2 linked regions of the Homo sapiens genome follow. The protein of the gene in region 2 purifies or fractionates together with the protein of the main gene of each other region. This does not show direct contact. Each region holds a gene or a part of one and is shown on either strand. Other genes may lie near its edges.

Region 1 (3,925 bases), on a different chromosome or scaffold from region 2:
ACCCCAGATGACTCTTTGAGTTTTGTGTATATTTGTCTCCTCCCTCCCTATCAAGCTGTTGGTTCTCACATCACTATCACTGTCATTATTACAAATGTACACACTTTATTAAATAGTTCCTCCTTTTACATTTTGTTTGGAAACCAAACACCACACTTTTGAAATCACATCTAAACATGAGTAAGTTCCTGAGTGAGGCCTAAGAGATTCTCCTAGGAATAAGATCCACAGATTTTGCAGCAACCTATATTTTAATTATTCAAAGTCTTTTTTTTTCCTGGTTGCCTATTTCCTGTATATTGGTGTGTTGCAGAACGGTGATGCTGCCAGACAGCTATTCCTGATAGGTAAGGTGTTATCACATAAGACATGGTTCCCACCCCCAAGGATTTTACAATCTAGGTGAGAGACAAGACATACAGTTGTCCCTAAGTATCCACCGGGGATTGGTTCCAGGACCAATACTCAACTCCCTGCAGATACTCAACTCCCTGATATAAAACGGCATCGTATTTGCATATAACGTATGCACATCCTCCCATGTACTTTAAATCATCTCTAGGTTACTTATAATACCTAATACAATGTAAATGCTATATAAATAGTTGGTACATTGTATTTTTATTTGTGTTATTTGTTATTGTTGTACTGTTTGAGTTTTTTGGAATATTTTTTATCCACAGTTGGTTGAATTCACAGATGTGGAATCCTCAGATACAGAGAGCCGACTAAACATAGGAAATGAGGGATTATGCTCTCTTACAAGACTCTCAAGAAGTGTTAAATGTTTAAGACTGGCTGCCAATGCTTCTTGGTTCTGCTGTCATGATATGTGTAATAGCCTGAAGTGCTTTCTCTACTAAATAACCAGTAGGAAGACATATCTTAACACTTAAAATTCAAAGTAAACCCCAAATATTTCCAACCATTGTAAGTTCCAATTCCATTTTCCTACTACATGCTTCCATAACATTTGTATTTTAAAGATTCTTCTTAAAAAACAGCAGCTTAAAACTAAGCAAGAGTTATAAAGAAATACTGAATTCTAGTTAACGCATGTGGAAGTGTTTTGGGATCAAACAAACTGCTACCTGCAAGTTACTTCGAAATGCATTAAAAATTATGATGGATTGGTGGATGGATATGTGATAAAGCAAATATAGTAAAATATTAACGATCTTAGAATCTAAGTGGTGGGTATATGGATGTTCACTTTACCATTTGTCAACTTAAATGGGTGAGAGACCGGGTCTCCAAAACAAAGAGTTTATTCGGGAACGGCAAGGGATTACAGTGTGGGATATGTGTGCTATGACAGACCATAGGTACAACTGAGGGTGCTGGGGCAAGGAGAAGTTTTTAAAGATACAAGGGAGGAGTCTACGCAAACTGTTCTGAAACAAAGACCATTGGTTACAGGGACTTATCACAGGAGGTGGCATTTGTTTTCATTGCCGGTATAGATAAGAGTATCCCTTATCTGAAATGTGGGACCAGAAGAGTTTTAGATATGGGATTTTTTCAGATTTGGGGATAACTGCATTATACTTACTGGTTGAGCATGCCAAATCAGGAAATTCAAAATCTGAAACGTTTCAATGAGCGTTTCCTTTGAGTGTCATGTTGGTGCTCAAAAAGTTTGGATTTTGGCCAGGCGCAGTGGCTCACACCTGTAATACCAGCACTATGGGAGGCCAAGGCGGGTGGATTACCTGAGGTCAGGAGTTCGAGACCAGCCTGACCATCACTGAGAAACCCTGTCTCTACTAAAAATACAAAATTAGCCAGGCATGGCGGCGCATGCCTGTAATCCCAGCTACTCGGGAGGCCAAGGCAGAAGAATTGCTTGAACCTAGGAGGCGGAGGTTGTGATGAGCCGAGTTCGCGCCACTGCACTCCAGCCTGGGCAAGAAAAGCAAAAGTCCGTCTCAAAAAAAAAAAAAAAAGTTTGGATTTTGGAGCATTCTGGATTTTCAGATTTGGGATGCTCAACCTGTACTGGCTGTTGGTAGGGCAATGTCTTCACAGAAGCAACTTATCTGGAATTTGTGTGGTTTTCAGAAGGTCCCTGCAATAATTTCTGTCATAGGCATACGCGCATGAGGGTTCCTTTTTCATTAAAATGTAACATAAATGACTCCATTTCAATACTGATAACTTCCACACATTCTTTCAACCTTTCTAAATGCCTGAAATTTTCATAATAAAATGCTGGAGGGAAAGCAATAGTAATACATACATAAAAGGATTACATAATAAAATTCACAAAGTAATCATTAAAAATGAATCAATCTACTCTAAAATCAAATACAAAGTATTCAAAAATAACGTGATAGGATCCGAAGCTTTGCAAAAGAACACTCCAATTAGACAGGCATGGTGGCGGATGTCTGTAATCCCAGCTACTCAGAAGGCTGAGGCACGAGAATCGCTTGAACCCGGGAGGCAGAGGGGTTCCGTAAGCTGAGATCGCGCTACTGCACTCCAGCCTGGGTAACAGAGCGAGACTCCATCTTAAAGAAAGGGGGGGAGGCACTCCACAGTATTTAACCATTTCCTGGACACTATTATTTATTACTATGAAGAAGAAATCAAAGAGGAAAATCCAACACAATAAGTAGTCATTCTCCGTAAACATTACTAAAGCAAATATGCTAAGTCCTTGAATTCAAGTTTTTCTAAAATAAAAACGTGTTCATTTACAATACCTGAATGGAGTAGAGAGAACTGTGTTTGGAGTCTGTACAACTTGTCGCTGTGGAGTTACACCTGAGAAGTCACTCTCATGCAATGGGGTATTAAGTCCACCTTTCAATGGGGTGTCCACATTGGTGAGGGCCATGAGGTTCTGGGCTTCCTGATTAACAAGAAGACAAAGAAGCAAGTTTAAAAGTTTAGACAGACTTGCAGAATCTCTTCTGGTCCTACTATACCAATCTTGAAGCAGGCAGAATCCTTACTCATTTTCTCAATGAAAGCTAACAGAGAAAATGAATACCAGTCATGGCAGATTTCAATGTTTCCATTCCTTCTATCAATCTAACACATCACATTAGAAGTGTTATACATCATGGGAAAACTGGCTAGCCATATGTAGAAAGCTGAAACTGGATCCCTTCCTTACACCTTATACAAAAATTAATTCAAGATGGATTAAAGACTTAAATGTTAGACCTAAAACCATAAAAACCCTAGAAGAAAACCTAGGCAATACCATTCAGGACATAGGCATGGGCAAGGACTTCATGTCTAAAACACCAAAAGCAATGGCAACAAAAGACAAAACTGACAAATGGGATCTAATTAAACTAAAGAGCTTCTGCACAGCAAAAGAAACTACCATCAGAGTGAACAGGCAACCTACAAAATGGGAGAAAATTTTCGCAACCTACTCATCTGACAAAGAGCTAATACCCAGAATCTACAATGAACTCAAACAAATTTACAAAAAAAAAAAAAACAAACAACCACATCAAAAAGTGGGCGAAGGATATGAACAGACACTTCTCAAAAGAAGACATTTATGCAGCCAAAAAACACATGAAAAAATGCTCATCATCACTGGCCATCAGAGAAATGCAAATCAAAACCACAAGGAGATACCATCTCACACCAGTTAGAATGGCAATCATTAAAAAGTCAGGAAACAGGTGCTGGAGAGGATGTGGAGAAATAGGAACACTTTTACACTGCTGGTGGGACTGTAAACTAGTTCAACCATTGTGGAAGTCAGTGTGGCGATTCCTCAGGGATCTAGAACTAGAAATACCATTTGACCCAGCCATCCCATTACTGGCTATATACCCAAAGGATTATAAATCATGCTGCTATAAAGACACATGCACACGTATGTTTACTGTGGCACTATTCACAATAGCAAAGACTTGGAACCAACCCAAATGTCCAACAATGATAGACTGGATTA
Region 2 (3,925 bases):
GCCCCTGTTCTGACTGTGTAACTGCTGAGAAGTTTTCTTTACCTAGAAGATAATCCTACAATAAACAAATCTCTTTTCCCTGACATAACCTGAACATGACTTACAATCAGAAATGACTTAAATGACCAGAACAGGGAAAACAAAGGCTTAACTGGGACATTGGATGTAATTCAGGGGAGATATGATGGTGGCCTGAACTGAGGCCAGGAATGAGCACAGGAATGAGATTCAGAAACTAACAAAAGGAAATGTGGGTGACTCACACATTTTTAGTACGGGACACTCAAAAGCCAAAAACTGCAATATAGGCAACAGAAAAATTAGTCCTGGTGAGGAAAATAAGGACTTTGGTTTCCACACAGGGAACTTGGAACTTAAGATTCCTATAGTAAACTCAAAGAGATATGTCTAAAAACCAGTTGGACATACTTGTTTAGAGATATGTCTAAAAACCAGTTGGGCATAATTATTTGGAGGTATGTCTAAAAACCAGCTGGACATACTTGTTTGGAGCTCAGGAAAAAAGTGGGGGTTAGAACAGACATGGGAGCCATGAGTATCCTACCACTGGTACTTCCTCAGGGGCAGATGCTTCAGAATAATCGATGAGACTTACATATATATATATGCCCGGTCCCATGCCTGGAAATTCTGATTCAGTAGGTCTTGGCTGGGACCTAGAAATCTCTATTTAAAAAAAAAAAAAAAGCTCCATAGATGATTCTGAAGAATACAGACTCACTGATGCAGACAGGGTTTAAGCTTGAGGACTGAATGAGAAATGTTATGTAGTATTTCAGAGTAAGAAAAAAGGGTAAAGACAGAATCAATATTGTAAGGCAAAGGGAAAAGAACCAGAAGAAGAGACTGAGAAAGAACAGCTAGAAAGACAGAAGAAAATGCTGTCTTGAAATTAAGGAGGAAGGCAGCTTCAAGAAAGAAGAGTGATCAGTGGCGTTCAATGTCACTGATCAAGTAGAACAGACCTGTAAGATCCACCTCTTAAACATTAATCAGTTAAACCAGGATCTGCCATGCCAGATCAGACAACAGTGTGATATGGTTTGGCTGTGTCCCCACCCAATCTCATCTTGAGTCGTACTCCCATAATTTCCACATGTTGTGGGAAGGACCCAGTGGGAGATAATTTGAATCATGGAGGTGGTTTCCCCAATACTGTTCTCATGGTAGTGAATAAATCTCATGAGATCTGATGGTTTTATCAGGGGTTTCTGCTTTTGCATGTCTCTCATTTTCTCTTGCCGCCACCACGTAATAAGTGCCTTTCGCCTCCTGCCATGATTCTGGGGCCTCCACAGCCACACACAGAACTGTAAGTCCAATTAAACCTCTTTTTCTTCCCAGTCTCGGGTGTGTCTGTATCAGCAGTGTGAAAAAGGACTAACATACAGTGTATCCTAGTGAATTCTATTCTTTAGCCTTCTTTTCATTAACATCAGTGTTTTCCATTCAAAAGCATATGCACAGATGTGAAATACAAGTCAAACCAGACAATGGGACTGATTTTTTTTTTTTTTAGACAGAGTCTTGCTCTGTCACCCAGGCTGGGGTGCAGTGGCGAGATCTCGGCTCACTGCAAGCTCCGCCTCCTGGGTTCATGCCATTCCCCTGCCTCAGCCTCCCGAGTAGCTGGGACTACAGGTGCCCGTCACCACGCCCTGCTAATTTTTTGTATTTTTAGTAGAGACGGGGTTTCACCGTGTTAGCTGGGATGGTCTCGATCTCCTGACCTCGTGATCCACCCGCCTCGGCCTCCCAAAATGCTAGGATTACAGGCGTGAGCCACCACGCCCAGCCAATGGACTGATTTTTTTAAAGATTACAGACAAATGACAATCCAGGGATAAAATGTCTCACTCATCTACTTATTTTAATGTTCCCAGTGGCAGGGTAGGTAACAATGAATTGCAACAGCATCTACCTATCTGAGAAATAAAGGTCAGTGCAAGCAAATGATTCCCAAAGCTTTTTATTCCTCAACTCCTTGGGGATACTGCCGTCCCAGCCTGTGTAACACAATACACCTTCGGGAACAGCAGGCGGGGGAACTAGGATTTGTCCTTTTTTTGTCAAGGGAAATCTTAACATTTCAGAAGAAAGGAGTACATAAGAAAGATTTAGGGAAGTAAAGGAGCTGAAGTCGCTTAGTTCATGAAGCAATAAGCACTGCTCACTGCCTACAGCTGAGGCCTGCACTGCTTTCAGTTTTTTAGTAAGTCCCTCACAGCAACCCTCAGTTTGTGAAACTGATATATTTTTCTACGTCATCTCCTTTCTTCATCTCTGAAGAAACCGCTAAGCCTTTTCAGTGTTTATACCTGTAGAGAATATACCAGAATGCATAAACTCCATAAGAGCAGAATAGATTTTGTCATATAGACCTGCCACATTGCTGGCACCGAACATAAGCGCTTGCTATATGGCAGCCACTAATAAATTGTTTGAAATTCCTTGAGGACAACTTTAAGTGATCTCTGAAACAGACATAAATAGATGGTGTCTCAATGTGTTACCCAGGCAGGTCTCAAACTCCTGGTCTCAAGCAATCCTCCCACCTCAGCCTCCCAAAGTCCTCGGATTACAAGCATGAACCACCATGCCCATCAAACAACTTTTGATCTCTTGATAGTAACAAACTTTGATGCAGGTCCATTAATAGAGGTTTTTTGAGCTATAAGATTCTATGTTCAAATTCAGGCTCTAGCAATAATTAGTTAGGTGACCTTAGCCAAAGGACTTAACTCCCTGAGTCTCAATTTCCTCACTAATAAAATAATTATCCGTAACTACCATTCAGCATTGTTATAAGGTTTAAGAACAGCGGACAATCTGGGCTCAGTAACTTTGCAGAAACTGAAAACGTCAGTAGTCCCAAATTCAAATTTAGAAGTTATTTTCACCGAATAACAACAGCAACAAAAACAAACAGATTATTTGAATCATTTCTATAGATTCAAATGAAGCATTTATAAACTATTCATTAGAATGAGACAAACCCAAGAATAAGGATAAAGACATTTCTATGGTGATCATTTCTGTCAGTTCCTAGTAATCTTCCACTGACCCCTCCCTATTCTTTTCTGCATCAAATTTAAACTTATGGCTGAAAACATCAGAATAATTTTAGGATTACTGCCAGCTATTTTGACTCCTTCTCACCTACACTGTAGGGCAAGCTGGAAAAGTTAAAATGCATGAACGCTTCTTGCTATTTAAAAGTAACACTGGGCCGCTGATAGTTCTTTCCCACCACTGGCCTTTATACGGTCCTTATCCTCCAAACTTCTCTGCACAAGTTTGAAGTGTTTACTAATCCCTCCTTGAAACAGTTTCCCTTCCCTAATTTGTGTGAAACTATACTCTCATGATTTTCAACCCTCTATTGAATCTTCCAATTTTCCTCTGTCATCTTTGCCAATCTAATCCATTTCCAATCTCAGCTATAACCGCTCTTTGGATACAGTGTGTATATCCAGCTCTGGCCTCTCAATCAAGTTCCAATCCCAGGATTCCAACTGGGTATTTTTTTCCTTTTTTATTGTCCCCCAGTTTTGTTAATTGACAAAAAATTATACTTATGGTATACAATGCAAAGTTTAGATACATGTATACTTTGTGAAGTGATTAAATCAAGCTCATTAACATATCTGTCACCTCACATACTTGTCATTTTTGTGGGGAGACCATTTAAGATCCACTCTCCTAGCAATTTTCAAATACACAAAACATTATTCACTGTAGTCACCATGCTATTCAATAGATCTTCAGAACTTATCCATCCTGGCTAACTGAAACCGTACCCTGAGCAACATTTCCCCATTCCCCTCCCACAAGGTCAACTCTATCTCATTGATATCCAAAATCAATTACTTCCAACTGAACTCATCTTTCCTGCATTTTTCCC

What was found.
Region 1: the proteins of DDX47 (region 2) and CDC5L purify together in Homo sapiens (affinity purification with mass spectrometry; 2 studies listed by BioGRID and IntAct, with this or other methods). This does not show direct contact.

Annotation. Positions count from the first base shown.
Region 1 is NC_000006.12:44,418,381-44,422,305, reverse strand, and holds part of CDC5L (cell division cycle 5-like protein), read right to left. Parts: intron 2,858-3,925; coding exon 2,709-2,857; intron 1-2,708.
Region 2 is NC_000012.12:12,816,133-12,820,057, reverse strand, and holds part of DDX47 (probable ATP-dependent RNA helicase DDX47), read right to left. Parts: intron 1-3,925. UniProt on the Homo sapiens protein: Required for efficient ribosome biogenesis. May have a role in mRNA splicing. Involved in apoptosis.